2 separate regions of the Homo sapiens genome follow, and region 2 is linked to region 1. The links come from fine-mapping of genetic effects on gene expression. Tissue or cell type: monocytes after LPS. Region 1 holds a variant in brackets; the other region holds the start of a gene. All regions are shown on one strand. Distances are between the middles of the regions.

Evidence for each region.
Region 2: it holds the start of TBX3, and the variant in region 1 is fine-mapped to the expression of TBX3 in monocytes after LPS (Fairfax 2014, PIP 0.95). The same link has a PIP of 0.9 or more in monocytes.

The regions. Positions count from the first base shown.
Region 1 is chr12:114,752,744-114,768,912 of GRCh38, forward strand. TBX3-AS1 (TBX3 antisense RNA 1) reads left to right here. Exons shown (of 2, transcript NR_187552.1): 2 at 14,541-15,245. Among named protein-coding and RNA genes, the nearest start is that of TBX3, 77 kb to the left of the region's middle. The variant T/G (reference allele first, on the strand shown) is at 10,122.
Region 2 is chr12:114,676,453-114,692,621 of GRCh38, forward strand. TBX3 (T-box transcription factor 3) reads right to left here and starts at 7,723. Exons shown (of 7, transcript NM_005996.4): 1 at 6,360-7,723; 2 at 4,427-4,694; 3 at 3,053-3,199; 4 at 1,128-1,204; 5 at 1-18. The coding sequence starts at 6,748. TBX3-AS1 (TBX3 antisense RNA 1) reads left to right here and starts at 5,840. Exons shown (of 2, transcript NR_187552.1): 1 at 5,840-6,182. RefSeq lists a promoter at 7,725-8,234 and enhancers at 9,545-10,397, 10,137-11,043, 10,398-11,248.

The DNA of each region.
Region 1 (16,169 bases):
TACCTAACAGTGGGCAGGAAAGCAAGATGAGCAGTTCATTGGTTTTGATGCCGGAAATTCTTTGGACATACAAAGATCTCACGATGGAAAATACTCTCTTCAGCAATTGCAGTGCTCCTAATCCCCAGCATGGCATCTTCCTTGCTATTTATCTAGGGGCCAGCGAAAGACACGCGCTCGACTTAGCAAGATAGGGGCTAGACAAACCACGGTGAGGAAAACGGCACCTACAAGTCTTCCCAGACAGCTGTCTGCAGTTGAAATTGAAGTGAGTTCGAACCGATACTGTTTATCTTAATGATTCCACGGCTATGTTCGTTTTAAGTAATATTATCTTTCTTTAAAAGGTCACTGGGCTGGCCCAAGCTATTGGTTTCTCATGATTCATTACGTTTGATGTTCAACTTTTCTCGAAGTCCGCAACACCAACCTCTGGGTTAATGGAAGCCACACCAGCCATGAAGCCAGTAGCTTTGAATCCTCCCTGGATGGGGAGGCCTGGGCCAGGTGGAGTGAGCTGCTTGCTTTTGATCAGCAGTGCTGATGTGAACCAGAGGTCACGCATGTTTGGGGCCTGTGTGTTAGCTCTACCAGACAGCAGCAACTGGGCCTCGACACTCCCTCCCACCCCAAGCCCCTCGAGTTTCGTTTTCCATGGTTGTCCCTCTGTGGGCCGACTTTTTCAAGACCCCTAGGGCACCAGAAGGACTTTTGCTGGGGGGAGATCCAGAGCCCTAAATCACTGGAGAAGTCCCCTTTGTCCACTCCAGGGGTCTTCCTCTTTCCATCCTTGGCTGTTCCAGACACAGATACACCAGTTCCCGCTCCCTCAGGGAATTTCTGCTCACCAGTGACAGGTGGATTTGCAGGGAGATCTCTTCCTCGCAGTAGAGTCTTTGGGTTGTTGAGTTCTTTTATGGGCATGCTTGAACTCTGGAGAGCCCCCAGACTGACAGCCACCTCTGTCTGCTAAATCGATTGTAAATTTTCCTGGCATTATGTCATCCTGTCATCCTTTTACAGATGCTTTTGCCTGCCATATTTTTATGACTCTTCTTCCAAGAGGGGCTGCATGGAGGGTGGTGGGTCAGCGTTATTTATCTGGAAGGAGAAGAGCAGGAGAATTTCTTATCACTGGTATCAGAAAGTGGGATTTCCCACTTATCACCCCCTCTTTGGCTTTGAAGTTTAAAGGCAACACCAACTGGCTGGATCAAGTAGTTTAGGGAGTTCCTTAGGCTGCCATCTTTATAAAATTGACAATGACCAGAAAATGGGGGACTCCCACCCTCCCCTAATTTCATATCCTCCTAGATACTTAAAATCACAGTAGACCAGCCCTGGAGTTTGTTTCCAGGACAAGAAGATCTTGACTGGATTAACGTATTTCCCAATGGAGGCTCTGAGGCTTTGGCAAACATAATAAGAGGAGCAGCTCTTAAACAACAACACTTGAAAAATTAAACAAGTAATATATATTCATTATAGGAGAAGTAGAAAAGGCAGATAAGGAAAAAGAAGAAAATGAAAATCACCTGTAATCCCATTACATAGGGCTAACCATTCATAGTTTACCATATATCTTTCTAGTCTTCTTCTGTGTATGGTATATGCATTTTAAATGAAAATAAGATTGTATCGCATATACTTTTTTGCATTTATTTACTTATTTATTTATTAAGGAGACAAGAGCTGACTATGTTGCCCAGGCTGGTCTCGAAATCCTGGGCTCAAGCGATCCACCCACTTTGGCCTTCCAAAGTGCTGGGATTACAGGTGTGAGCCGCGAAGTCCAGCTTGCTTTTTTGTTCTTTTAGATGGGATCTCACTCTGTCACCCAGGCTGGAGTGCAGTGGTGTGATCATACCTCACTGTAACCTTGAGCTCCTGGGCGCAAGTGATCTTCCCACCTTGGCCTCCTGACTACAGGTGTGCACCACTATGGGACTACAGGTGTGCATATCCATGCCTGGCTAATTAATTTTTTTTTTTTTTTGGTAGAGATGGGGTCTTGCTCACTGTTGCCCAGGCTGGTCTTGAACTCTTGAGCCCAAGAGATCCTCCCACCTCAACCTCCCAAAGTGCTGGGATTACAAGTATGAGCCACTGTACCAGGCACATATCACATATACTGTCAATGGTTCTATTTATCAGGTAAATCATATACATATACATATATAATATTATAATATATTCTACACATAGTATATTTATCTATCTATTTATATGTATATTTTGAGATGGAGTCTCTCACTCTTGTCTAGGCTAGAGTGCAGTGGTGTGATCTCAGCTCACTGCAACCTCTGCCTCCCAAGTTCAAGTGATTCTCCTGCATCAGCCTCCTGAGTAGCTGGGACTTAACAGGTGCATGCCACCATGCTCCATTTATTTTTGTATTTTTGGTTGAGACAAGGTTTCGCCATGTTGGCCAGACTGGTCTCGAACTCCTGACCTCAAGTGATCCACCCACCTTGGACTCCCAAAGTGCTGGGATTACAGGCATGGGCCACCACGCCCAGCCTCTAATATATTTAAATAATACAGAAATAACAAGAACAATAAAAACCCAAATTGTACCCACTATTGACCTCCTAGTGAACACCTTTTTTTTTTTTTTTTTTTTTTGAGACGGAGTCTCGCTCTGCTGCCCAGGCTGGAGTGCAGTGGCGCAATCTTGGCTCACTGCAAGCTCCACCTCCCGGGTTCACGCCATTCTCCTGGATCAGCCTCCCGAGTAGCTGGGACTACAGGCACCTGTCATCACGCCCGGCCAATTTTTTGTATTTTTAGTAGAGATGAGGTTTCACCATGTTAGTCAGGGTGGTCTCGATCTCCTGACCTCGTGCTCTGCCAGCCTCGGCCTCCCAAAGTGTAGGGATTACAGGCATGAGCCACCGCACCCAGCCCCAGTGAACACCTTTCTAGATCTCTCTTTTCAGATTGTTTGCTAACCTGCTTTTACAAAGCTTAGCAATATAGAATGTGCTTCTCCATGCCAATAAATCTGTCTCTACACCAGGAGCTCAGTTGTGTTCCACTGTCAGGAGGCATCATGGGCCAGGCTCAGTGGCTCATGCCTATAGGCCCAGCAATTAATTTGGGAGGCCAAAGTGGGTAAATTGCTTGAGCCCAGGAATTCAAGACCAGCCTGGACAACATGGTCAAGCTTCGTCTCTATAAAGAATTTAAAAGTTAGCTGGGTGTGGTGGTGTGCTCCTGTAGTTCCAGCTACTTGGGAGGCCGAGGCAGGAAGATCCCTTGAGCCCAGGAGGTCAAGGCTGCAGTGAGCCACGATCGTGCCACTGCACTGCAGCCTAGGCACAAAGTGAGACCCTGCCTCAAAAAAAATAAAATTAAATTGAATTGAAATTTTATGACACACCAGGCTTTAGCTAATACCCGCCCCCTGCAGTTGTATAGGTAGCTTATTTCCAGTTGTTCACAAACACCTCTCAGCTTAGTTGCCAACACTTTTATCAGATGACATTTGCTTCCTACCCACAGCCTATCCAACAAAGGTGCTCCACCCCACCCACAACTCTGTTTAGCAAGATGGAAATTCAAATACGCTCAGAAGGTTTTTGTTTTTGTTATTGTTTTTTTTGAGACAGAGTCTCGCTCTGTCACCCAGGCTGGAGTGCAGTGGCACAATCTCTGCTCACTGCAACCTCCACCTCCCGAGTTCAAGCAATTCTCATGCCTCAGCCTCCCAAGTAGCTGGGATTATAGGCACGGGCCACCACGCCCGGCTAATTTTTATATTTTTAGTAGAGACAGGGTTTCACTATGTTGGCCAGGCTGGTCTCAAACTCCTGACCCCAAGTGATCCTCCTGCTTCAGACTCCCAAAATGCTGGGATTACAGGCGTGGGCCACCACACCCGGCTTTTGGTAGCAGAAAATCCAGTTGACAGTCATTTAAATGACGAGGGGCCTATCTTTCTCACATGATGAGTAGTCCAGAGGTGGGCTGCTGCCCTGTGAGGTCACCAGCATCCCAGTTTTCTCTATTACACTTCCACCGTCTTCAGTATTTTCTCTTGTTATTCTCATGCTTGCCTCTTGTTCAATGATGTCTGACTAAGCTCCAGGCATCACATCTCTGCCATTAAGACAAAGGAGTGGCACCAGAAAGAAGGCTTTCCTCTTCAGCATTTCTCCTTTATAAGAAATCAAAACTTGGCCACGTGTGGTGGCTCATGTCTGTAATCCCAGAGCTTTGGGAGGCTGAGGAGGGCAGATCACTTGAGGTCAGAAGTTCAAGACCAGTCTGGCCAACATGGCAAAACCCCGTCTGTATTTAAAAAACAAAAAATACAAAAAATTAGCTGGGTATGATGGCGAGTGCCTGTAATCCCAGCTACTCAGGAGGTTGAGATGGGAGGGTCACTTGAACACGGGAGGTGGAGGTTGCAGTGAGCCGAGATCATACCACTGCACTCCAGCCTGGGCGATGGAGCAAGACTTTATTTTATTAGCTCAAACTCTGCAACATGGTCAACTGTAACTGCCAAGAGGCCAGGAAGGTGAATCTTTCATTTTTTAGACTCATGGTAGGCGGCAGGAAGGGAGAGGGATGCTGGGACTGGGTGTTGCATCAGCTAAGCAGTGGTTTAGGCATAGCATCCAAAACATTCTCATTACAGCTAGGCCTGTTCTGGGCATTGCCTTCACCTATGACTCTAACTTCCCAGATCTCACCGGTCTCTTATGTCTCCAATCCCTGCTCCTAACTTTTTTTTTTTTTTTTTTTTTTTTGAGTCAGAATCTCACTGTGTCACCCAGGCTGGAGTGCAATGGTGTGATCTCAGCTCACTGCAACCTCCGCCTCCTAGGTTCAAGCGATTCTCATGCCTCAGCCACCTGAGTAGCTGTGATTACAGGTGTGTGACACCACACCTGGATAATTTTTGTACTTTTAGTAGGGACAGGGTTTCACCATGTTGGCCAGGCTGGTCTCAAACTCCTGACCTCAGGAGATCCACCTGCCTCAGCATCCCAAAGTTCTGGAATTACAGGCATGAGCCATTGCCCCCGGCCCCTAACTTTTCTTATTGTGTGGTCTGGCCTCTTGGTTTAGGAGATACATTTGGACTCCTTCATGCTAGACTTGGCTTCTTGTTCAACTCTTGCCTCTGTCTGGCAGATGCTTCCTACTTTGTAAAGTGCTAGAAAATTGGAAGGACTTGTTTATTTGCAAATGGAGTCAGTGCTGAGCTCCACAGTGCAGGGACTAGGAATTCCTTCTGTGAATTCCCAGTCTCCAGCAGAGAGGCCTTCACAATTTATGTCCATTTAACCCAAATAAAGGGAGGGCAGTGGGGCATCTTTGTAAACCCTTGTTATTGCACAGGTCATAATAGATGCAGGGCTGGCAAATGACGGACTGAGTCAGATTCTTCCAGGGGGCATTTCTTCGGTGGCCAGTGGTTAAATCTTGATTCCAGAAATGTTTACCAAGAAGAAACATTCTGTAGCATTAGAACTTGCACCCTTGAGAACGCTGCTTTGTAACTAGAATCATGGGATGCTTTTGAGTTGAACCATGCTCCAGTTTTTTTGTTTTGTTTTGTTTGTTTGTTCGTTTGTTTTAAGGCAGAGTTTCGCTCTTGTTGCACAGGCTGGAGTGCAATGGTGCGATCTCAACTCACTGCAACCTCCACCGCCCAGATTCAAACAATTCTTCTGCCTCAGCCTCCCAAGTAGCTGGGATTACAGACATGTGCCACCACACCCGGCTAATTTTGTGGATTTTTTTTTTAGTATAGATAGGGTTTCACCACGTTGGTGAGGCTGGTCTTGAACTCCTAATCTCAAGTGATCCTCCCGCCTCAGCCTCCCAAAGTGCTGGAATTATAGGCGTGAGCCACCGTGCCTGGCCCATGCTCCAGTTTTGTCTTAGGGGAGTTTTCTCTGCCTTATAGCCGCAAAGTCCGTGCTCTAGGGTGAGGTCTAAAGCTATGTGGAGAGAGTCTGTGGTCGGGTGTGCTGTGAACCTGAAGCTTAGAGCCAGATCTAGATTCATGATGATTGTTTCATGATTTACCAAAATGAGTCCATGGTCTAGACAGGATGGAAACAGAGAAACCTATTCTCCCAGTGTTTGTCAAATAAAACTGGAAAAAAAGTAACATTGATCATACAGAAAAAAATATAAAAAGGTGATGAAGAAAAAGAATGAAGTTTTTGGCTAGGCGTGGTGGCTCACAGCTGTAATCCTAGCACTTCGAGAGGCCAAGGCAGGAGGATCGCTTCAGCCCAGGAGCCTGAGACCAGCCTGGGCAACACAGGGAGAGACCATCTCTACAAAAAAGAAAAAATAAAAAAATTTAACTGGTGGTCCCTAAGCTACTTGGGAGGCGTAGGTGGGAGGAACGCTTGAACCCAGGAGGTTGGGGCTGCAGTGAGTCATGTTTGCACCACTGCACTCCAGCCTGGGCAACAAAGTGAGATCCTATATCTTACAAAAACAAACAAACAAACAAATAAACAAGCAAAGTGGCTGCCAGGAGCTGGGGGTGGGGAAAATGGAGAGGTGTTGTTCAGTGGATATAAAGTTTCAGTCATGCAAGATGAGTAAGATCCAGAGCTCTTCTGTACAACATTGTGCTATAGTTAATACAGTATTGTGAACTTCAAAATATGATAGGAGGGTAGATCTCATGTTAAATGTTCTTATCACAGGAAAAGCAAACAAAAAACAATAACAAAAACAAAAGCACACAGGACACTTAGGAAGGTGTTGGATATGTCTATTACTTTGAATGTGATGGTGGTAGCACGGGTGTCCACACACATTTGAACTCATCAAACTTACACACGTTAAATATATCCAGTTTTGGATATATACAGGCGCAGTAGCTCACGCCTGTAATCCTAGCACTTTAGGAGGCCGAGACAGGAGGATCATTTAAGCACAGGAATTCAAGACTAGCCTGGGCAAAATAGTGAGAACTTATCTCTATTTTAAAAAATAATAATAATAAAATAAATAAATATATCCCATTCTTTGTATATCTATTTCTCAATAAAGCTGTTAAAAAATACTCCTAGCTGGGCGTGGTGACTCACGCCTGTAATTCTAGCACTTTGGGAGGGCGAGGCGGGTGGATCACTTGAGGTCAGGAGTTTGAGGGCAGCCTGGCCAAGATGGTAAGATCCTGTCTCTACAAAAAAATACAAAAATTAGCTGGGCATTGTGGCGCTCGCCTGTAGTCCCAGCTACTTGGAAGGCTGAGGCAGGAGAATCACTTGAACCCGCAAGGTGGAGGTTGCAGCGAGCCGAGATCGCAGCACTGTACTCCAGAGTGGGTAATAGAGTGAGACTCTGTCTCAACAAAAAAGAAAAAAAAAAAAACAAAACCTATTTTATAGGGTTATTTTTATGATTCATTGGGTGAGTATTTATAAAGTGTACAGAAGACTACCTGAAAATAAATGCTTGAATGAGCTGTTGTAGTCTTTCTCTTGCTACGTGAAAGCCAGAAACAGGTATATTATCTCTGTAACCTCAGTGCCTGATATGCTCTGTCATTTGGAGGATGTTTGCTGAATGACTGTATGACCTTCAGTTGCTGGAGATGATGGTAGAAGGCTGACCTACCTCCCACATGCAGACAGTAGACACCTAAGCCTACAGCTAAGTCTGCCAGAAGTCCCACTTCCCAGCCTGTTTCCAGACTCATATGTCCTCGGGGGAGAGGGGTAAAAACAAAGAAAGCTCCAGATCCGGTTTGGCTAATGTGTGGAAAATTCCACAGATGCACTGTCTGGTCCCAATCGCCCTTCTCACTGCCACCAACTGCAGCATGGCAGACACACCAGAGAAAAGAGAAGGTGAAAACATTTCTGAATGCAGAAGCAAATTCAGCTGGTGCGTGGGGAGCACAATGTTCCAAACACAATTAAAACCCAATCAGCGTCCGGAAAAGTGCATTCATGTCCGTCAATCAAATGACAGAGCACATGTGGCGTAGGCATCTCTCTGGGGGCTGCTTCTTCAAGAGTCGTCATTGATGGCAGAGATGGCCCCCACCCAGGCAGAATCCAGCATAAGCCTTAGTCTCAGAGGCTGGGATTCCAGGTAGAGGAAGAAGCCTAGGACCTATCTCCAATTTTTTTTTTTTTTTTTTTTTTTTTTTTTTTTTTTGAGATGGAGTTTCGTTCTTGTTGCCCAGGCTGGAGTGCAACGGCGCGATCTCAGCTCACCGCAACCTCCACCTCCTGGATTTAAGCGATTCTTCTGCCTTATCCTCCTGAGTAGCTGGGATTACAGGTGCCCGCCACCATGCTCGGCTATTTTTTGTGTGTTTTTAGTAGAGACGGGGTTTTCTCCATGTTGGTCAGGCTGGTCTCGAACTCCTGACCTCAGGTGATCTCCCCGCTTCAGACTCCCAAAGTGCTGGGATTACGGCTGTGAGCCACCACGTCTGGCCTTGTTTTTTTTGTTTTTGTTTTGTTTTGTTTTTTTTTTGAGATGGAGTTTCACTCTTGTTGCCCAGGCTGGAGTGCAATGGCATGATCTTGGCTCAATGCACTCTCTGCCTCCTGAGTTCAAGCAATTTTTCTATCTCAGCCTCCTGAATAGCTGGGACTACAGGCGTGTGCCACTCTGCCCAATTTTTTTTGTATTTTTAGTAGAGATGGGGTTTCACCATTTTGGCCAGTCTGGTCTCAAACTCCTGATCTCAAGTGATCCGCCAGCCTCTGCCTCCCAAAGTGTTAGAATTACAGGCGTGAGCCACCGTGCCCGACTTTGTTTTCTTTTTAACTCTTGATGTATGTCGATGCTGAAGAGGAGAGATCAGCTGACTCTTCTTAGGAGCCCATTTCTTTTTTTTTGAGATGGAGTTTGGCTCTGTCACCCAGGCTGGAGTGCAGTGGCACCATCTTGGCTCACTGCAACCTCCACCTCCTGGGTTCAAGCGATTCTCCTGCCTCAGCCTCCTGAGTAGCTGGGATTACAGGCATCCGCCCCCATGCCTGGCTAATTTTTGTATTTTAGTAGAGACAGGGTTTCACCACGTTAGCCAGGCTGTTCTCGAACTCCTGGGCTCAGGTGATCCACCTGCCTCGGCCTCCCAAAGTGCTCCCAAAGGCGTGAGCCACTGTAGCTGGTCCCCATTTATTTTCAAGAAGGAATGAGAGTGGCTCATTGATTGAATCAACACATATTTCATGTGGGGCTGGGATTACGGATGGTGGCTCACATTTGTAATCCCAGCACTTTGGGAGGCTGAGGAGGATGAATTCCTTGGCCCCAGGAGTTCAAGACCAGCCTGGGCAACATAGTGAGACCCCAATTCTACAAAAACTTTAAAAAATTAGCCAGGCGTGGCGTCACAGGCCTGTGGTCCTAGCCACTAGGGAGGCTGAGGTGGGAGGATTGCTTGAGCCTGGGAGGTCAAGACTGCAGTGAGCCATGATCGTGCCACTCCACTCCAGCCTGGGTAACAGAGCAAGACTCTGTCAAAAAAAAAAAAAAAAAAATTCATTTGGAGGATGCTTCTATAAGCCCACTGCAGTGCTAGGTCAGTAGTTCTCAACTAGGGGTGATGTCCCCAGGTGACATTGTGCAATATCTAGAGACAATTTTGGTTGACACAACTTGGGGTGCATCTAGTTTGTAGAGGTCAAAGATACTGTTAAATATATTGCAATGCACAGGCCGGCTCCTATAACAAAGAATTACCCAGTTGGAAATATCAAGAGTGCTGAGGTGGAGAAACCCTGAGTTTAGGCCCAAGTGTTATACGACAAGGCCCAAGCGTTATACGACAAGACAGAACAAGACAGACGTGGTCATTGCGCTGGCTGGGTTTCCTTGAACTTGGCCGGCTTAACTATTTCTTTAAATAGCTGGATGTGGAGAGAGGCCCCTTTAAGGACAGTGTTGGTGTTTCTTTTCTCCTCTAGCGTGTGTCTCTGGGGCCTGCTGTGTGGCCGGGTGTTGGCTGGTGAGTATGTATGTGCGTGCGTGTGTGTGTGCGTGCGTGTGTGTGTGTGCGCGTGCGTGTGTGCGTGCGTGTGTATGTGTGTGTTCAGAGCTGTGGGGGGTGTCTGTTTGGACTTGTGCGGTTGTCTGTTTATGTCTGTGTACATCGGTGTGGCTCTGTAAGAACT[T/G]TTCTGTCATTTCCTTCCCCTGCTTGCCAGAGAGGCAGATGTGGCTTGCAACGTCCTTCTAAGGTCAAATTCATCACCAGACGAGATTAAGAAACCATTAGGGAAAGACCCTCCTTTGCTCCCTTCCATCTTCCCATCCAATCCCAATACCCTTCCACCCTCCCTGCCCCCACCTCGGGGATAAAACTAGAGGTCAGTAAACTTGCCTCTGAGCTGAAGCTTTGAACTTGAAGTTCAGGCTAACTCCACTGTGCCTGCCTAGGCATCCAGGAAGTATTAAAAATGGTGTTTCAGAGGAATCAAAGCACAGCCAGGACAATGATGGATCCAAACTGGAATTTTTTATCTCTGCATTATTAAAATTTGGGGCTGGGTAATTTGTGTGTGGCGGGGGGCGGCGGGGAGGGAGGCTGTCCTGGGCCTTGTAAGATGTTGTGCAGCATTTTTGGTCTGCATCCACTAGATGCACCCCCAGTTGTGACAACCAAAAATGTCTCCAGACGTTGTCTAACATCCCCTGACGCACACAATGAATCCCAGTTGAAAAGTCATCGATCTACAAATACATAGAGCAATGTGGTGAATCTCACGTGCTTAATTTTTTTTTTTCAGTATTGATGAGATACTTTTGGTAATAACGAGATACTACTGAATCAGCCCATTTTTTACTTTTTTTTTTTTTTTTTTTTTTTTGAGGCAGTCTAGCTCTGTCACCCAGGCTGGAGTACAGTGGGGCAATCTCGACTCACAGCAACCTCTGCCTCCCGGGTTCAAGCAATTCTTCTACCTCAGCCTCCCAAGTAGCTGGGATTACAGGTGCCTGCCACCATACCCGGCTAATTTTTTTATATTTTTAGTCGAGATGGGGTTTCACCATGTTGGCTGGGCTGGTCTTGAACTCCTGACCTCAGGTGATCCACCCACCTCAGCCTCCCAAAGTGCTGGGATTACAGGTGTGAGCCACCATGCCGGGCCTCACACACTTAATTTTGAAGGAAAGAAGCCAGCTACTCAAGTGTGATGTTGTGTGGTTCTGTTGATGAAAAGCACAAAAATATGCAGAGCTAATCGATTCTGTTAGATGTCAGGAGAGTGGTTGCTTTATCCTAGTGCATATTGACTGGAAGGAGACACTGTGGGGACTTCTGGGGATGTCTGTTTCTTTTTAATCTGAATGCTAGGTATGCATATGTTATGTGTGTAGTTTTCTGTGTATGTTGCACCTGAATTAGAAGCAGATGTGTGCTGAAGCTAGCGCAGTGGCTCACACCTGTAATTCTAGCACTTTTGGAGGCCAAGGCGGGCGGATCTCTTGAGGTTAGGAGTTTGAGACCAGCCTGACCAACATGGCAAATCCCCCTCTCTACTAAAAATACAAAAAAACTAGCCAGGTGTGGTGGTGCATGTCTGTGTTCCCAACTACTTGGGAGGCTGAGGCAGGAGAATTGTTTGAACTCGGTAGGCAGGCGTTGCAGTGAGTCGAGATCTCACCACTGCACTCCAGCCTGGGTGACAGAGCGAGACTCTGTCTCTACAAAAAAAAAAAAAAAAAAAAAAAAAAAAAAAGGAATATATGTGCTGAGAGGAGCACATATATTAAAGAAATACATTTGGAAAATCAGCACAGACTGTCTTAAAAAAAAAAAATCCTAACAGTACAGGTTTATCTTCCCAAACTCTGTAGTGGACAGTTTATGAGAAGTTTTATTCAAATGATTCTTACAGAATCCCCCCAGCTGTTTCTAAAGCTGCAGGGACAATAAGACCATGAAGCAATGATCTGATTGAAGAGAACACGTTGTCAGCCGCCATACAAACACACACTCACTCACACACACACACACCCTCAAACAGAGATGTCACGGGGCCTGTGTAGAATCGAATTTCCTGCCTTTGTGTTCCCCAAGCAGCCCTTCAGAGGAGAGAAAACTGCAAACTGACACATGAAATGGACCAATATGCCAGGTTGAGACTTCTACAAACAAATGGCCCTTTTCATCTTCTGGAGGGGAAAAAATAATCTACGTGGGCGACAATCAGAGCTTGCCTCTTTTCAGCCATTTAAAAGGAAAATGGGGCTGGGTGTGGTGGCTCATGCCTGTAATCCTAGCACTTTGGGAGGCTGAGGTGGGAGAACTCCAGCTCAGAAATTCGAGACCAGCTTGGGCAACATAGTGAGATGAGACCCTGTCTCTCTATTAAAAAAAAATAAAAATAAAAATAAAGGGAAAGTGAGTCAGCCCAGTAGCTCACATGTGTAATCCCAGCACTGAGAGGCCGAGGCAGAAAGATGGCTTGAGCCTAGTAGTTTGAGACCAGCCTGGGCAACATAGTGAGACCTCCGTCTCTACTTAAAAAAAAAAAATTAGCCAAGTATGGTGGAGTGCATCTGTAGTCCTAGCTACTCAGGAAGCTGAGGTGGGAGAATCACTTGAGCCCAGGAGTTCAAGGCTGCAGTGAGCTATGATCGTGCCACTGCACTCCAGCCTGGGCAACAAGCAAGATCCTGCCTTTAAAAATTAATTAATTAATTAATTAATGGAAAGCGTGGCTTCGCGGCTCTGTCCTGAATCCTATTCACGCATGCTGGTCCCATCTCAGTCCAGAGGACCCCAGAATATTACACTTGTAGCATCTTGGGTCATAATGGACACCAATGCAGCCACATGGATACCAAAAGCACAGACTATAGGCATTCCATATTTTCTTTAGTGTCCTCTTTCAGGGAAACCTGAGGAAGGTTCTGGAAGCAGGAGGATCCCAAAATGTGCCTGAGAGACCCCTGTCTTCATCCCAGAGGCCTCCTTAGACATCAGCATTTGGGGAAAAAACTGTGGACATTTGCTGCAGCCTCCCCAGCTGGTCAGCATTATTAAAGTGGGGCACATCTGTTCTTGGCTGTTAGCACGGAGAAGAGGAGGGGGTCGAGTGAGAGGAGAAATCCCCAAACGCTTGGACTGATCCCACCTAGTACTAAGAGCAAATTGCCTCTAAGTTGGCATCACGGAGAAGTGCTTCATGAAGGGGCAGAGATTCCTCATCAAAATACCCCTTCTTACCCACTTCCCTCCTGCCGCCCTTCCCCCTCCTCTCTCTGTCTAAAACTCCCCAGGTTCTAGCCAGTCTTGAGATTTATGACCTGTTTTATTTTGTGAACCCCCTAAGATCGTATTTGGGTGATGAGGAGCTGAGAGGTCTGCAGATAGCCTGTTGGTTGGAAAAGGGAGTATAAAGTATAATGAATGCAGTATATTTCCCAGTTGCTCTTTCATGCACATACATAAAGTTATAAATGCCCCCGAGCGTGTGGCAAGCACATAGCGGCCTTTGAAACACACACAGCAATATGCTCAGAGACAGCACCCCCCCCCCCCAGACCCATGCACAGCGAGGCATCACACGCTTGCAAACACATGCAAAAGACCCACAGGCGTACAGGAGCATATTCATGCACAAGCAGACCCATACCAACATACAAAACTAGAAACAGATGCAAACCAACATCCAACATCAGACCCAGATGGGGCTATGCACCCCAATATGCACCCCCCTACTGCTGCGGCCCCTCCAAAAAGTTGAAATGCACAGTGCTGGAAGGATCCTTTTAGCTCCCTCTTCAATTTCCCTTGCAATATGAATGTCTTCCAAATTGCAGCCCTGGGACCTACAAACTGCACTCCATTCTGCTTTCTTTTCTTTTTCTTTTTCTTTTTTTTTTTTGAGACAGACTCTCGCTCTGTTGCCCAGGCTGGAGTGCAGTGGCATGATCTCAGCTCACCGCAAGCTCCGCCTCCTGGGTTCAGCCATTCTCCTGCCTCAGCCTCCCTAGTAGCAGGGACTACAGGCGCCCGCCACCATCCCCAGCTAATTTTTTGTATTTTTAGTAGAGGCGGGGTTTCACCCTGTTAGCCAAGATGGTCTCGATCTCCTGACCTCGTGATCCGCCCGCCTCCCAAAGTGCTGGGATTACAGGCGTGAGCCACTGCGCCCGGCATTTTTTTTTTTTTTTTTTTTTGAGACAGAGTCTCCCTCTGTCACCAGGCTGGAGTGCAGTGGTGTGATCTTGGCTCGCTGCAACCTCCGACTCCCTGGTTCAATTGATTCTCCTGCCTCAGCCTCCCGAGTAGCTGGGGTTACAGGCACGCACCACCACGCCCAGCTAATTTGTGTATTTTTAGTAGAGACGAGGTTTCACCATGTTGGCCAGGATGGTCTAGATTTCCTGACATCATGATCCCCCCGTCTCAGCCTCCCAAAGTTCTGGGATTACAGGCGTGAGCCACCGCGCCTGGCCTCTACTTTCTTAATAAGACCTCCAGGCGCATGACAAAGCAGAAACCTTCAGAAACAAAATCTACCGAGTTCGAAGAACGGGCCTGGCCCAAGGCACTTTGGACGCTGTCCGTTCTGTCTTCACAGCGGCTTGCAGTAAACTTCTTGGAGGAGAATTGGCATTGCAAGGGTGTTACTGGAGACCTCGGCAAGAAAGTGAATGCAAAGACAGATGACCCAGGAACCCGTGATGGATAAGGCTCTTGACAGCCAGGACGTGGAATTACAGGGGGTCTCTTTGAGAGACAAAATAAAAAAAATAGCCCAGTAATCTTCCTTCCACCCTTTTCTCCCAGATCTAATTACAGATGTCTTGACATTCCTTCTGCATAGAATTTCCTTAAAAGATTTGCCAAGAAGAAACATTTGGAAACTGTGTTTTAGGTATAATCCGTCTGGGAGTCACTCTTGCTCGCTTTGTCGTTAGATGACAAAACGCTTAATTACAGCGAGCACAATGTATACCACATTTGGAAAACTGGATTCTTGACCTAAATAATGTACCCCATACTGACAATGGCCTTTTGGCAAAACTTGTGTCTCTGATCTCACATTAATTACTACACAAATATACTTATTGTGGGCACCGAGTTTATGGGATGGAGTCCTCTTGACACATGTTCACCATAAAAACACATTTTTTTCCCTTCCCCTGACCCTAAGGAAAAGAAAAAAAAAAAGATTAACATTTTTCAAGATGCTGTTTTAGTGACATGAAAACTGTCTGTTGAGTGTTCACTCGGCTTTTGTTCTTTTTCTTTTCTCCTTTTATTAAAAAGCCTTTCAAACCAAGCATTCCTGGTTTGTGATTCTTTACTTTTGCTTTTATGCTGAGGGAGAGACAGATTAGATTAGATTAAAGACCAAGGGACACCTCGTGAAATACATTCCATCTAGAGGCAATTTGGTTGAGAGGGCCAATTGTGTGTGTGTGTGCCTGTGTGCGTGCAGGCGTGCGTGTTTCTCCTTGTGGCATACTGGTGGTCTTTTTACAGATACAGAGTTCTGGTTTTTGGAAATGCGTTTATTCCTTTAGCCTTTTTCCCTTCAGAAGCCTGCAGCCTTTGATTGTGGCCTGACTTTTAGGGGTCTGCGGCATTTTGGGGGGTAGTAAATCTTATTAACTCTTCCCTTTAGTGTCTCGCCATTCTCAAAAACTTTTACAAAAAGCAGCAACACCGCCCTCACCAAAGACAGATGAAAGGAGCGGTTTCAAAGCCCCTCTCCCCCCTGCCCCAGCAGGCCCCCAGATTGGTCTGATGATGTCACAGGGGTAACCACGGCAACAGGCCGTGACATCATGACAAAAGGAGGACTGACCTTGGCCTGGAATTCAAAGCAAAAGCAGCTCATAAACTTCTAAAGCAAGCAGGAGATAAATATCCTTAGTCATAAAAGAACAAACGAAGTTTGGGGTGGGGGGACGGGGGAAAAAAAAGCAGAACTTTTTTTTTTTTTTGAAATACAGTAAAATGTGTTGCCAAGTTTTTCAGGAAGTGCTAGTGGCCATTTTGATGATGTGAACTAGATTTTAAAACAGAAAGAGGAAAAATGAATGTGGTGGACAAGGGCTGCTGACAATATTAGATAGAATCAGGTGAAACTTTTCCCTAAACTATAATTTGTAAAATGGGGGAGAGGGGATGAGCCAGACCAAAGCAAAACAACAGACAAATTCATTTCTGAGTGAGAGAAGGAATTACATGGCAGGAGAAA
Region 2 (16,169 bases), 76 kb before region 1:
TGCAGGGTGAGCTGTTTTCTGTGGCAGAAGCCCACACCCAGGTTACAGAATGTAACATACATTTCCCCTCTTTGTTTCCCTTACCCTTTCCAAAGCGGCACACACATACCTCACACCCTGCCTGCTGCCCAGGGACAACGCTAATTCACTGAAATCTGCTTGCCCCAGGGCAGCCACATAGACCCAAGCTTTGTCCTTGACCCTCTAACTGGGCTGAAGAGTGTGGCAGAGGGTTAGGGAGAAAGGAAGGAGGCTTCAGTTGCATTTATTCAAGATGGGGTTTCATTAGGAAAAGGCATTTGCTTGGGCTGTGAAATTTTATTTAAAAGCAGGAGAAGAGGCTGGATCTAGTCAGAGACAGCTGGACTGCCAGCCTTATATAGGGAGAACCGGGTGTCCAATCCTGCAAACACAACGCTGTCTGTCCCCAGCATACCCAAATTTTGGATGGTGGCTAAGATTGGGAGGAAGTGGTTATTTCATGCTGCACTTTACTGTAATCGTTTTACTAACAAATTAATTGGAATAAAAATATATTTAGCTGTTAGCAATTATTTTTTAATGCCCGCCCCAAGGGGATAGGTTAAAAATTTGGGGGTGATTTTCTGGATTTTAGAAATTCTTTGAAAGGGGGTGGGGGAGGGGAGACCCTCTTTCATATACTCTCCAGCTGTCTACGTAATGCAAAATGATACATGTCCCCACGAAGGAGGGAGAGAGCCATACATCTTTCCGAAGTCCCCAGCTCTGTCTGATGGTATTTGGAAGACAGGATTGCAAAAATTCCCAAGTATTTTCTCAATGGCATGGTTCTTTCTGGGACCTGCCTAGGATGAACTTAAATTAATTAGGAATTAATAGGCATCCCTGTATAATCTATTATCCCTGATGCTTCTCTTCCAGAGATAAGTATGGTGTAGCCTAGTTAATTTCCTTAAAGGTAAGGAGGTAGGAAAAGTACTTGTCCTGGGTATACTGATAGCGGCAAGCATGTAGCAGTGGGGAAAGTGAATGATTTCCACCCGCTCTTAGGATAAGTGCCTGCATCTCACTTCTAACACTTCAGAGTTGGATCCTAAAAAAAGGGATTTTTCTAAACTATCTAATAAATAATTGTTTCAACTCACCTTTTTTCTCTTCGGCCATTTCCAGTGTCCCGGAAACCTTTTGCAAAAGGGTTGTTGTCTATTTTTAACTGGGTTATCTATTGGAAGAGACACAAGCAAGACAGAGACATTGTTCTCATTTTCTAGAATGTTTTGAGGGTGTTTTTCCCAACTCAACAAGTCTAGAGATGTGACTGCCAACAGAAGTCATATAGATATGCCAGGGAAAGGAGATAATAAGGAAACTGTGGCAGGGCTTGTATCTCCTATATGAGGCCAAACCAGGGATTTGGGGATGAAATTATTCAAAGAAATTCTTTTCTTTGGGCAGCCAACAGTTTGGGTTTAGACATGGAAGTGTTGTCAAAGTCATCAAGAGGGAAAACCTGTAGATCTTAAAATTATGCTTTCATTTTGATTTTTATACAGTGCAATTAATCATAAATTATAGCATACTCCCTTCACACACACACACACACACACACACACACACACACACTCCTTTTCCATGAATCCAATAAATGATTTATGGGGTTTCACTACCCTTGTGCGGGAGTGAGTGCGGGAGTGAGTTTAATTTTTTTTTTCTTTGCCTGGGGGGTGGTTTGAGGAAATTACAATATTGACAGTTACAGTACTGAATGACCACTGGAAACATCTGTTTTCATTTATATGCTCTGCCATGGCCATTAGGTGGAGAAGGCCCATGGCCTTTTTGTCTGATCAAAAATGCTACATTTTATTATTACATTAACAACTTCATTTCACAGGATTCTGGGTCTAGAGGGCACATGCATTTTGCACTTTGAGAAAAATGCTATAGTGTGTAATCTTTCAAATCCCTTCCCCTTGGTGGGAAGAAGAAGTTATATACACAGAGTTACTCAGAGGTGGAAAGGGGGACCCTTGGTTGGATTCATGTTCTTGGAATAAATTGCTCTATTGAAGACTTCAGGTTTCACAGGGAGAGAAGATCATGTTTTGGTATTCACACTAAAGAAATTTAGCTGGAACATCCCCATCATGAAGTCCACAGAGGACCCAAGGACAGTGACAATGACAGTGAGTTCAAAATGAAGTGTGTTGTCAGGTAAAATGGACTCTCTTTGAAGTCCAGGATTGCAGAGCAGGGGTCTTCAGTCCCTCCTCCCACCCCATAACTGCTAACAGCCAATCTGGGAACTGGTGAATCAGCAGTAAGGGTCACTTTTTCTGTGCCCATGACCTTCAGGCCACCATAGCTCTAGATATCAGGTGCTTTCCCTTTTGGGGATCCTTCTAACCTCCAGATTCAGGCCTGGGGGAGGGGGGGAATTCAAATGAAGTGGTGACTTTGGCCACCCCAACTCAAAAGCCTCAGACAACTCGATTAATATGACCCTGTGATCAGGGTAGGTTTTTCCAACCACACGCATGCATGCACACACATGCACACACACACACACATCATAACACAGCAGCATAAAAGGTAATAAAAACCAGACCAGCTACTCAGGATTTCTGGCTAGGGGAGAAAAGCTGGTCTCTACTAGGATTCTCCTCCCAGGATCCCAAATGGCTTTTGCCTTAAATTTTTAGCTGGTTCCTTTTGAATGTGACTTCTTGATCCTTCTTCCCCAAGGGGAAGAAGATGAACCTTAAAACAGACAGGACAAAGCCCAAGAGGGGGGGAGGAGTGGGTGGCATCAATGACAGCAGTTCTAGGAGTTTCTCTGTGGCAAAATTAGTATGGCGTTTTTTTGCTCAGCATTGTTCCTACCTAGTCAAGGTGTTTTTCTGTCTCCTCGAGGTGTCATTGTCCTTTCCCCCCAAATGCTCCACAAATCACAAAAGACAACTCAAGACTCTCGTCTCCACTCTCTTGTAACTTTCTCATCCTGACTTAAAGCAGCTTTTAAGGGGAAGGCAAAATATCACCATTAAAAAGGAAAGCCCCTTGAGTTTACCTTATCATTCTGGTATGCAGTCACAGCGATGAATTCAGTTTCGGGGAACAAGTATGTCCGAAATGTACTATAAGGGAGTTTCAAGATGTCATTGGCTCTTACAATGTGGAACCGGGGCTGGTATTTGTGCATGGAGTTCAATATAGTCTGCAGGGGCAGGGAAGAGGAGACATACATAAAACAAGGATTTAGCAGAACAAACGGGATCTTAGGACCCCTGCCAGGCTGAAATCTTCCCCACCGCAGGGTACCACGCTTGTACCGAGCCCACCTCCTTGGAGTACCCCCTGGGTACGTTTCGCTCCACAGATGTTATCTTCTGGAGAATCCAAATTGCTCCTCAGTTGCCAAAGGGCCCCCCCCACCCTCACCATCTAAGGATCATTCATACCTTGAACCCTAGCCTACCTGAGTACCAAAACTATAATTCCCCTGCCACGTAGCGTGATCACTTGGGAAGGCCAAAGTCTTAAAAGATAGAGAAAAACATGCATTTTAATTTACAAAATGATTCAGTACTTTAAGCGCCCACTAATTGACGAGCCCAATCCACTTAAAGCCCTGAAAGGCTGAACTCTAGAGAGGAATATTTATGCCTTAATCAAATCAAGGGCTTCAAATGCAATTCCTGCCCGCTGAAGATATTTCCGCGCCATTCGCGTCTTCCTGGGCCTAATCTTTCTGCTTACTCCTTGCTTATCACGCTGTTTATTTTATTGAAATGTTGGGGAGGGGTAGGAAAAGGCGCAAAAGGTCCTTTGCCTGATATCTACAAGCAATGAAAGTTTTCTAAGTTTCTAAGCACTGTCACTGAATCCATATATACACTCCCAACACACAAACCATTTTTTTCTGAAGATCTAAGCCTCATTTAGGGTAAGCCGGACTCCCACCTAAGCCCAATTCTTTTTTTAGTAAAAGAACGAGTTTTTAAAAATGTATTCACACCATTTAACCAACAGAGTCAAGGCTCCGAAACGTAAACTCTCCTGAGAAAATAATATCACTGGTTTCAAAACAGAAGTATGATATTTTAAAACAAAACAAATCCTTTAGGAATACATAGCCTTGAAATTGATTTTAGCTCTTAAAAAATGGTTTTTAACTTCACTCTCAGGTCAGGAATCTACCAAAGAGCTGGAATTGCTATAGAACACAAGCCGGTAAGTTTTCTTGCCCCATTTCTTTTAGAACGCCAGGCCTTCCATTATTTGGAGAGAAACACCCCGAATCCTTTTTCCAGACGAGGACAAGTTTGCTATGCTTAGGGAGAAGCAAAGGAGAAGTCTGGGCTGAAACTCATGAAATGGGAAGCACTGCCTTTGACTGAGTGAAGGAGGAGAAAATTTTACTGAAGAGAGCAATGAAACTTACAAATCCATGTTTGTCTGAAATGTTGTTGGTGAGTTTCAGTTTGTGGAAAGTGACGACTTTGGACATCCACTGTTCCCCAGTAGCGGGGCTGTCCGGGTGAATGTACATCCTCTTTGGCATTTCGGGGTCGGCCTTACCAGCCACCATCCACCGAGAATTGTGAAATTTATAACGACAGTCATCAGCAGCTATAATGTCCATCAATAAAATGTATTTGGCTTTTTTATCCAGCCCAGAACATCTCACTTTAAATGGAGGAAACATTCGCCTATAAAACGAAAGAATAGAAAAGAAAAAGAAAGATAAACCACCCGTAATCTTGGGTTTGATTTCCTATGTATCACATAATATTGAAACCAAGTCTAAGACTTTATATTGTGACTGATAAGCTTACATGTTTCAGAGTGAGGCAACTGGTTGCAAAATCGTTTTCTTCCACAACTAACGTATTAAATATTCTCAGTTTCGCCATATTTAGACGTCCCAAGGTTCAAAACAAATGCATTGTGGCACTGCAATTCTCTACATTGTCTAACAATTTCTTCAATATTTTTTTTGTCCTTGCTTGACTTTACAGATTGCCCTCCTGAGAGCAAATTCTTGCCCATGTCTTTTTCTGTGGGTATCTAGATCTAAACAGGTTGGGGTAAGATTTTTGTAAAGCGCGGTCAGTTAAGACTAGAATTTTCCACCACCCATTGATGAGAAAATGTTAAACTTATCAAGGAAATGAACGTCAAGTTGCACCCCTCCCTGCTGCAGAATAGCAATCCCGCTGTGGGCGAAGTGAAACTGGACTTCAGTGAGTTCCCAGAACGAATTTTGCAGACTTCGGTGCACTCCTGGGCCTGATAACCGATCTGCCCGTGGAGCTGCTAACACATTCCCCCACTTCTTAGGCCAGTCCAAAACCGCAAGACTGTGCCACCACATTGCTGTTAATTTCACAGAAGGGTTGGCATTCTGTAGTCTTGACTTAAAAGGAAGCAAGGAAGCACTTTGCTGGAAAACTGACTAAATGTCTTGTGAGTTTGAGGAGGATTTTATGCCAAACTTTGGCCTCATTTAGCTTGGAAGGAGACAGAACGCTTAAGATATCATGAAGGGGATTTTATTTTTGTATCAACTTTATGCCTTTACAGGCTTCAATGCTATTACAAAAAAAAAATCAGTGATTTTAAATGACTATTACAGGATCTTCTCTTCCAGGCAGGTTTTGGTCAGGCAAGGACCTTTAAACATTATGTAAAATATGGTTGATAATATTCACACATTAAAAAAAAGGTGTGTGTCTCCTCACTGGCTCCTTAAGTCTGCAAACATAATCTTAAATTATGCAAAATTGCCTGCTGAACTCGCCCTTGGGTTACAGACACGTGAAGTAGTGTGGGCAAACAAACCAAAATGCCCTTCGATTTCTCTCTGACCAGGGCAGCAGCAGGCCCCTTTAGACCCAGAGGCTAGACTGGAGGGCAGAAAGGGCCGGGGAATGGTGTCAGGCCTCCCAATACCCACACAAAAGGAAAGGGCTTTAAGTTTTTCTCTCTGAGAACAAAATAAAACAGACAACACAACATCAACAAAGAAATAAGGATGTTCCAGGAGGGTTTGAAGAGTGAGTTTCTTGCAGTAGAGTGCCTTTTTTTTTTTTCTTTCCTGCTCCCTGCAGGGATGTCTGTGCTCCACTGAAAAATTCTGTCTGTTCGGGAGGGAACCCAGGATGCAGACCAAATGCAAGACCCATGCAGATGCCCAGGTAAGCTGAAATTTCCTGCCACCGGGGCAGGGCCTGGAAGTCTGTGCATACATTTCTAGGGGAACTAACTTTTCGTCCAAGCCGTAATAACCGACCAACCGACTGTTCTGGGAGCAGAGAAATAAAGGGAGGAAAAAACTCTCCAACAGCTTAGGGGAGGAGGCCCCCACTGCTTACCTTCCCGACTTGGTAATGACCATCTCGGTGCCCCGCTTGTGAAACTGATCCCAAAGTTCTTTAGCCTCCAGGTGCACCTTGGGGTCGTCCTCCACCTCTTCTTCGGGCTCCATGGTCTTCAAAGGCCTCAGATGCGCCTGGGGCCCCAGGGAGGAGAACGGGATGCCGGTCTCGGCCGCCCCCACCAATTGATCCATGATCGGCTTGGCCAGGGCGCCCGGCAGCGAGAGCGCCGCCGCGCCGTTGGGAGGCAGCGTCAGCGCGGGGAAGAACGGCGGCTGGTGACCCAGCACCGCGCTCATGGCGAAGTCCGGCGCCCGGTGAGGTAGGAACGGATGGTAGGCCATGCTTGTCCCAGGAATGACCGGATCTCTCATGGAGAGGCTCATCCACTCCAGGCGGGGCGCTGGGCTCCAGCCGGGGACAAGTCCGCAGCTGCTGTGTTTTGTTGTTTTTTTGTTGTTGTTTAACAGCAGCACATAATTCAAAAGGGGGGAAAAAGCAAAACAAAAAAGAAAGAAAAAAGAAAAGGAGGCAGAAATCACAACTAATGCACTTCAAAGGGAGGAGGGGAAGTGTCTTTTGGAGAATGGGAGGCCGCTTTTAAAGAGGGCAAGGCGAAAAATCAGCAAACATAGTCGCGCGGGTGACCGTCCTTGTGCCTTGCGTTTTTAAAAAGCCGCTCCTGAACGTCGGTTTCAGAAGCGAGAGGAGCGAGCAGGGTCTCGACTCGCGCCCGAGCCCTGCCGCTGAGCTCGAAATAGACACTCCAGCCCTGCGTCCCAGGAATCTCTCTCCAGCCCCTAGGTCTTTTGTTGCAAATGTGAAAGGTTCTCCTAGAAGACTTTTTACCTTTCTTTTTCTTCTTCCCCCGCCCCCTATCTGTCTTCCTCTCCCTCTTTCTCGCTGGTGGCGTCTGCAGCTGTGCTAGACCCGGCTTTAACAGGGAGCGAGAGAGCGGAAAAAGTCTCTCTCCTTTAAAAAAAAAAAAATCTGATTTAAACCCCCTTCTACCAGCGCTATCAAAACTTGAATTGCAAACTGGCTTCCGTTCGCCGCCCTCCTCCTCCTTCCTCTGCTCCGAGCCTCCGGAGGGTGTCTCGGTTTCAATCCAAATCTTGCTGGGCTCTTCTCCCGTGCCTCTCTCTCTTCCTTGTCCTAAAACGTGAGCGAATTCGCTTCCTAAATCTGTGTCCAGGCGCGCAGGGCAGGGAGGATTTAGAGGGGGAAAAAATGGAACAGAGGGAAAGAGAGGGAGGGGAGAGAGAGAGAGAGAGAGAGAGACGGAGTCGGAGAGGGAGGGAGCGAGAGAAAGCGAGAGCTCCTCGCCACCCTCCGCCGCCTCTAGAATTCACCGGGCGTCTGCTCGGCGGCTCTAGAAGGTCGGGCTGCGCTGTGGGCTGCGGGGAGCCGGAGGCCTCTTGATTGGCTCTTTGACGCTTTCGGACCAATTGTGTTGCTGCATAGGCGTGGTTTTCACAGGTCGAGTGCTGGGGGATAGAGCTGAGTTATAAAAAGAAGGTGTCGGAAACTGTAACGTCGCAGCGCCGCATCGGTACTACTGCCTGTCCTGTGAATATGTCAACATGATCAGAGGGCGGGCGGGAGCCACTGGGGAGCGCGCGCGCACAGAGTCGCCTCTAGGTGGCTTATCGAGAGATCGCTGCAGCCCCTGAGCTCGCTCGCTCGCTCTGGTTCAGCCCACGTCTGAAATGCCTCAGTCATCCAGCCGGGGATCGAGGGAGGAGGCAGGGCCAAGGAGGAAGGGGGAGGGAGAGAGGGAGGGAGCCAGCGAGCAGGCGAGCCGGGCGGGGAAGGCGGAGAGCGCGCCCGGGCGCCGGGCAGGGGCGCTCGCCTCTCTTGCACTCCGCTCGCCTCTCCGACCGCCGCGGCCGGTTCTCTCTCCAGCTCTCCTTCTTCTCCCCGCCCCGGGCGAGCCGGGCGGGTGGCCGAGCCTCCCCGCGAGCTGCCATCCGGCCACTCGGTTCTACAAAAGCCGGCGGCAGCCGAGAAGCGAGCGCCGAGACTCCAGGCTTGCGTGCTCTCCAGCCCCACGTGGAGCCAAGCTCCGCCCGGCCGCCGCTGAAGGGCTCCCGAGCTCGGGTGTCTCGGTGCTGGTCTCCCCTGCGTCTGGGCTGGGGGAGCACAAGGATGCGGCCATATCTCAGCACACGCATGTGTGGGCTTCCTCTCCACTGCGCCCCACCCGCAGCCATGTGCGGGTACCCAAACACCCCCGGTGTATCTGTACTCGAACACGCGCCAACACACTGGGACTGAAACACACACCGAAAAACACGTACACACAAACACGTACACAGCCTGCGCGGCTGGCCCTGCCTGAGCTCCTGGGGAAGATGGATTTGGGATTTTTATGAAATGCATTTACCAGCCCTTTTGGATCTCGTCTTTCATTTGCATGCGGGCCCCCATATTCCACCTGGATGTGGGTGTGGGTGTAGAGAAGAGAATGGAGGATCTGGACAAAGCGAGCACAGCGAGAGACTGGGTTCTGAGCCTGTCCCCTCCAAGCCGCTGCCCTCACCTCGAGGCCCGGCTGGGTGCACAGCACAGGGTAAGGGGTGGGCGATTGGGTTGGGGGAGGCGCGCCAGCCTGGTATCTTCTCTAGGCATCGCACTTATCTCTCGGTGCCTCAGTTCTTTCTCCACCCCGGGGACTTAATCTGGCCAGAAGTCGGGGAGGGAGGGTGAATTTGTAAAACAAACCGTGAAACGCCCCCACCTCAGAGGCGAGTTGACTGTTTTTAGTACGGGTAGGGTGGGGGCCTCCTCTTAGGCGGACGGGAGGGAAACGACCGGATCTTACCAATCGCCGAATTACCAACTCTGTTACCGCAGCGCCCGGTCGGGGTCAGAGGATTCGCCTAAGCCCACAGTTCTTGATTCTGGGGGCCAATGTCTTGGACCATCCTTGCTTAGATGGAGGGAAATCTTGAAAACAATGTTCTTTTATCTTTCCTGAGATGAAAGCTTCTTCGATGGAAAGGGAACGGAGAAAGGGCTGATCTGGGGGCTTAGGGGTTTAAGAGACTCAGGGCTTTGGATGTGTGTGTCTCTGTAGGCCAGCACAGGCCTCTCTCGCATTTTGCCTTGTGCACCCGCGCAACCCCCAGCAACCCCGAAACCCCAACGTGGCACCAAGGGAAGGGTGAAAATGAAGTGCTCTTGTGGGCCAACCACGCTGAGATAGGGGAGGATCTTTTGAGGCGACAGGCTTCTCCAGCCTCGCATTTTTGACGCACATGGTTAAGAGAGCTTGGCGCCAGCGTTGAGAATTCCCTGAAGTCACCAGAGAGAATAGTGTGGTTCTGCGAACTCCGTCTGGCTCGCCATCTCGCCCCTTTCTTTCCCTTTCAGTCTGTCTTTCTCTGGCGTCCTCTCTGTCTCTGCCAGTGGTTAAAATAGAGAAAGGAGAGAGAGGGAAAATTACGAGGTGGTGGTGCCCCAGAGTGTTGGCTCATAACACCCCCTCCCGCATCCCCTCCTCCCCACCTGAAGGGTGCGAAAGGCCAGGCCATTTCCCGCCTTACACAGAACACGGAAGTCACTGCAGGGTTTCATGAGTCTCTGGGGACCCCCGCCCCAAAAAAAAGAAAAAGAAAAGAAAAGAAAGAAATAGAAAAAAAAAGTGCACCCCCTCCCCCAGACTGCTCGCCTCCGGGGCCTGGGGCCCCTTCGCTGCTCTTTCAAGAGCGGCCCCAAATCCCAGCGATCTGGTTTTGCCTGCCTGCCCTCGCAGGCCAATCTCTGCCCCACTACTTGGGGTGGAAGCAAAGTAGTTCTACAACCACACTGTGACCGACCTCCTCCTCACCCACTCGGTGCCCCCAAGCGTCCCACGCACAGCAGAGAGACATTCCTCTGCATTCTGGCCAGCTGTCAGCTTTGGAAATGGGAGGGGAGCTTGCGGATTTTACTTAAAAATGTCTAGATTTGTTTTTGGCTCCGCGGGTGGACTGAGAGGGAGTTCTGCCCCTCACACTGTCCTCCTCCCTCAATTGCCTATTTTTTGCCCATAGCTCTAACTTAACCCTGTGATCACCCCAGATCGCTACTTCTGACCCCCATCTCCTCTCCCACACCAACCTCCAGCGCGCGAAGCAGAGAACGAGAGGAAAGTTTGCGGGGTTCGAATCGAAAATGTCGACATCTTGCTAATGGTCTGCAAACTTCCGCCAATTATGACTGACCTCCCAGACTCGGCCCCAGGAGGCTCGTATTAGGCAGGGAGGCCGCCGTAATTCTGGGATCAAAAGCGGGAAGGTGCGAACTCCTCTTTGTCTCTGCGTGCCCGGCGCGCCCCCCTCCCGGTGGGTGATAAACCCACTCTGGCGCCGGCCATGCGCTGGGTGATTAATTTGCGAACAAACAAAAGCGGCCTGGTGGCCACTGCATTCGGGTTAAACATTGGCCAGCGTGTTCCGAAGGCTTGTGCTGGGCCTGGCCTCCAGGAGAACCCACGAGGCCAGCGCTCCCCGGACCCCGGCATTAGGCGCCAGCTGCCGGCTATCTGCGGTCTTTTTCTCTCTGCAGACCCCTCGATCCTCTTTCCTTCGGTCTCACACTCAACAAAAGACAGACTAGAGACGTTGAAAGAGCCTGCCCTTCAACAGAGTCCCAGAAAAGGGTGACTTAAGGGGAGGAGAAGGGAGAAAGAGGGCAGATTCCGGGTCAGAAAAGACCCAGATAATTTCTGGCGTCTCTGAAATATTCCTCCACCTTTTCGCAAAAAGAGTTTTCACTTAATTGTAGCTCTAGAATTAAAAAAGTAAATTAACTGAAAAACCTCTCTATCTGCAATGCCCGCAGCATTTAAAGTAGTGCGGGTGCAAGTAGGCGAGTGTTAAAGCTGGGTGGGGGGAGGACCCTGAAAATAATGTTCCTTTGTGGGGGTGGGGTCGGGGTGGGGGTCGGGGGAAACAAAACCAAATCAACTGTCCTTAGCCCAGGCCACGGTGCCAGCAAAGAAGCTGGCCTTGCCCGAGACGGAAGCTTAGCCCACGCCACTTTTCCCTGCCGCACTGCCTGCCTCAAACTATAAAGGGGACAAACCGACCCTTTTGTGATCAAATGGTGTTTATCTGGAGTTTACAAAAAGGGCGGGGAGGAGGGTAAAAGGATGGTGGGTAGGCGGGGTCGTTTGCTTTGGCCAGTTTGCTGTAAATATTCCCTTCAGCATGTGTGAGGTCTGGCAAGGGAGTATTATATGCTTATTCCCTCTTAAACTTTCACCCCCGTTTGCCGCAGAGCTCTTTTCAGTCCGAGGTGTCACTAAATTGGGAATTCTGTTGACAGAAGGGCATCCAAGATTCACCGGGGGTATGAGACCTAATTAAGAAGTTTCATACAGGGGTGGGTTCATATATGAACTTTTCCTGGGGGAGGGGCGTTCTGGTCATCCTGGCAGTTTGGCAATGGCTCCTCGTTTCTGCCCAGTGCCCCAGCCCATTTGATCTCAGGATCCCAGCCTCTTTTGATATTGACGAGCTTTGAAACTGACCAGGTGCCTGCCCCCCAAGGGCTCCCATTCTCTTTCGGGCTCAATTCTCCCACCTGAGGAAGTGATTTTCTTATCACGGATCCCAGGGAAGTAGCTCTCTAGTTTACTGTTTGTGGTCCTCCTGCAAATTGCCCTAGCACCCCCTACCCCTCTGGGGTACATACATTAGCACTGCTATGCTACCCTGAACCCTGACTCTCCCCCTGGCAGTGCTGAACCCAGTGGAGGCTTGCTCTTCCTCCAGGAGTCTCCACTCACCATGCACCCCCATCCCTTCCTCCTCCCCAAAGCTTGCTTTGAGAGCTTAGTTCCTCTCTGGTCCAGAAGCTGCCTGTCAGTCCCTTGGAGACAGGCTGGACTCCCCCACCTTTCCTCCCTCCAGGGCAGACACTAGCTTCTTGGTTGGACCAGACAGACAGGGCAGGACATTCACCTTTTGTTTCTTTTTCCATTCCTTTCTTTCTCCTCCCCACCACCCCCCCCCCCCCTTTTCTTTTGGTCTCCTTGTCTTTCTGCTCATCCCCATTTAGGATTATTTGAATGCGTGTCTGGAATCTTTCTTATTCTTTTTCCTTCTACTTTCTCTTCTCCTCCTTTCATCAATCTTGTTCTTGGTTTCTATTTCTCTTTCTTGTCTTGTATCTATTTCCCAGGCTTTAACTTCTCATGTTTTGTTTTGTTTTTTTTTTTTTTCTACCTTCTTTATCCTATTTTTTCTGGCTGTTTTGGTCCTGTCTGAATTCTCTCCTGTCTTTCTGACCTGGTGCCTCCGTACTCTGCCCCCTTTCCCTCCCTCATCTTTCCCAGCAACCATGACAGCCTGGAGATCCCTCTTCCTGGGGCTGAAGCAAACACCTTCCCCTCTCTTCCTTGACTAGAAAGATAAAGTATCTTGAGAGATAGAAAAACATTGTGTGCATTTGCCTAGAGTGGCAGTTTTACCTTCTCCTCTTGGCATTTCCAAAGCCACCCCTTTCTCCAGAGTTGAACCCCATCTTTGCTCCCTAAGCTCTAAGGCCACCTCCCCATCTTTTCCAGAGCAGGAACCTAGGGTGAGGAGCTGCAAGTTAACCTAGGAACCTAGGGTGGGGAGCTCTATAGCCCCCAGCTCCCAGCTTCCTACTTGCCCCAGCAGCACGGAGCTTTCCTGTAACACACATTTCCCCTATCCTCTGACATTCCTCTAAATTATTGATCTGGGCAATTTGGTGCAAGCGTCTGTAGCATGTTTCAGAGAGAGAAGACTGAAAGTTGTCTAGCTTGGAGAAGCAATATTTTTAGTACAGAGGCTCAGTTTGTTGCCAGTTGGTTTATGCCGTTTCTAGAGCATCATTCGCTATGCACTTAATCCATGCTCATCATACCTCCTTAATGTAAATATGTTTTTGGCAGAGGCAAAATGAAAACATTTTGCCCTCCATATTATTCTTATTAGCACCTACCTTTCCTCAAAGCTGATCACCCTGCAAAATGGCAAATTTGTACACAGCCAGTGATTTAGATAAGTTAGAAGGGAAATGAGAGAGGTAAGATTGAAGGATGTGTGTGTGTCTGGGGAGAGTGCTTTTTCTACATCTGTGAAGGTTTTTTCCTCTCTCAGGAAAGGGAACCAATTGTGGTTTCCTAATTTCAAGTCAATCTATATCTTCAACCTTCTCTTTGTGTGTGTGTGTGTGTGTGTGTGTTTTACCTAATTACTTTAAAAAAAAAGATAATGCAATGGGCATTATTAGGCCAGCAGAAATGAATTCACAAGGAAGGGGCCAGGAATTTTTTCTCTCATTTTATCTGACCCAGAACCACCAAGACACAGGCCAGAGCTGACTTTTGCCCCAGGCACTTTTGACCACCCAGCACCTTTCTTTCTTCAACATCCTCTTTCTAGATTTTCAGTCGAGACAGGTAAGGGTATAAGTGGCCTCTCAGAGGTTTGTATCAAAATTTTACTTGTAGGGTAGAGGGACTAAGTGACAGAATACTTTAAGAGGGTGGAGGAGAAATTTAACAGTCCTCTCATGCAGACGGAGGGTGACATTCAAATGGGAGAATTTACTTCTGTGGTTTGCTACTGTTTCATTCTTTCCCTTATCATTGGTAGTGTTGTTAGGTGGCAGGGTTGTGGGGCAGAGTGGGGTTTCGCCCTGGGGGAGCATATGTGGCAGAGGGCACAGGAAGATCTGTAAGCAAGAGGGCATAGCAAATTAAATGACCACACTGTCAGGAAGGTTGACAGGCCAAAGAAAGATCAGCTCCTCCAAATCTGCTGAACTAACTCTCCCCTCGTAGCCCCAGACACGTTTTCTCAATTTGAGCACAATATCCATTACTATTTCCCGTACTGGGTTTCAATTAAAGAGAGTGAGAGTAGAAAGTTCACTGGTGTTTGGGGGTTCATTTATTTCCAAGCAGGATGCAAATGAAAGGGAGCCGTGGGCACAGAGTTGTCATGTGTGTTTTTCCTCCCTCTTCTTTCCATTTCCTTCTTGCAACCTTCCCTCCACTTCTTGCCAGCCACCCAGCACACCCGTGTTCCCAAAGCAAATGTTTTCATGTCTTGAAAATCCAGTTAGGGTGAGGAGAGAAGGAAGGTGATAACATCATACCTACTGATGCCCCCTAGAGATGAAGCTGTCCTGGGGGCACTTAAGGCTTGAGGGAAGGATTTACCTTCTCGAGATGGGCACAGGAATTGGGGTAGTGTGAGCACTTGAAGGGTTCCAGGTTTTACTGTTGCACTGAAAACAGATGCAATCCCTCCTGCTGTAACATGCCCCTATGGAAAAAATCTAGCCTTCTGTGCAGTTATCCTGTTTTGGTCCTAGAACACAGGGTGGTGATCTTGCTTCTCTGGGGGGTGCCAGGCAAATAGAAGACGTGAAAATCTGCTGCCAAGGTCAGGATGTAGGTCCTGGATTCAGGATCTTGACCCCAGGCCTGCCCTGTCACCGAGCAGTGGTCTCACAACCAGGCAAACTCTCTGGCCAAACTCACTTCACACAAACTTGAGCTGAGCACCAGCCCTCCAACCCCCTCCACCTTCTATGATCACTGACTTTGTACCATGGCCACACAGACCACTGGGCAGAAGAGTAGCTGCAGGGTGTCGGTCTTAATTTCATGACACTCTGCGTAGCCTCCTCCTCCTTCCACGTCAGCAAAAGAAACTAGAGGCCTCAACAATGTGACTGTATTTTGAGTTGGGATGTGTCCCTCCCAAATCAATCATCCCGGCTCCAAATAATACAAACAAATTCTACATATTTTAAAATGTCCCAAGTCTTGTATGATATCCAGGGACCGATTAGTGCCGACTGGAGAGACTATTCCCTCTCCCATTCCGAATAAAGGGTTAGGTGAAGGTTGTGGCCCGAGAGATCCCAGAAGCCCTTAAAAGTCTTTAGCTTGGGGTTTGAATAATGAGGGCTAGATAAGTTTGTTTTCTCTTCCTTTCAAAAATTTTTTTATTTTAGAGGAAGGGGAATGAGGAAGGCGCACGCGCGCGCTCACACACACACACACACACACACACACACGCAGAAAGAGAGAAAATGTTTGGAATTGTGAAAGTGCCTTTCCTAGTAGTTGCTTTTACTGGCGCCCGGGCCTCAATTCATTTCATCTCTGAACCAGATACTAAAAATCCTCCAGGCGAGTGGAGAGGACCGGCCTTCCTGGATCGGGAACCTGCCCTCTGTCTTCCCTCGCAGCGCCCTTTCCTCCTTTCGCTTGGGAAAGGAAGATTTCGAGCCCCAGGAAGGAGTTGGGAGTGAGCGACAGCCCAGAGCGTCCCATAAGGTCCTTTTGGCCATGTTTCTGCCCCGGGGGGCTTCACCTAGATCCCCCACCCCACCCCTTACCCCTGTTGCAAATACGTAAGCTGGACGCGCCTCGGTGCGGATCCAGGCCTCGCTGAGCACGGAACCGGAGAAGCAGCTCACGGCCTCGGATTCTACTCTCACCCAAGGGTGGAAGGGGGTGACAGGGCTCGGATCTTGCCCCAAACGCTGCACAGGCCCGCAGGAGAGCAAAGAGGTCTCGGACAGGCTGTCCTTCCCCAGCTCTCGGTCGCGACAAGGTCCCGACAGGCCCGGGAACCGGCGAACCGCCTGCAGGTAACCCTGCGCTGGGTACCTGCCTTCCCTCTCCAGCTACCGGGGCGGGGCGCGGCGCGGCGCGGCGCGGCGCGGCGGGCTGCCCGGGTGGGGGATGAAGAAAGCACGGCGGACCCAGGGCAGCGAAGCGCAGGTCTTTTTCCTTTTGAGAACTAAGATCAAGATTGCAGGGATTCA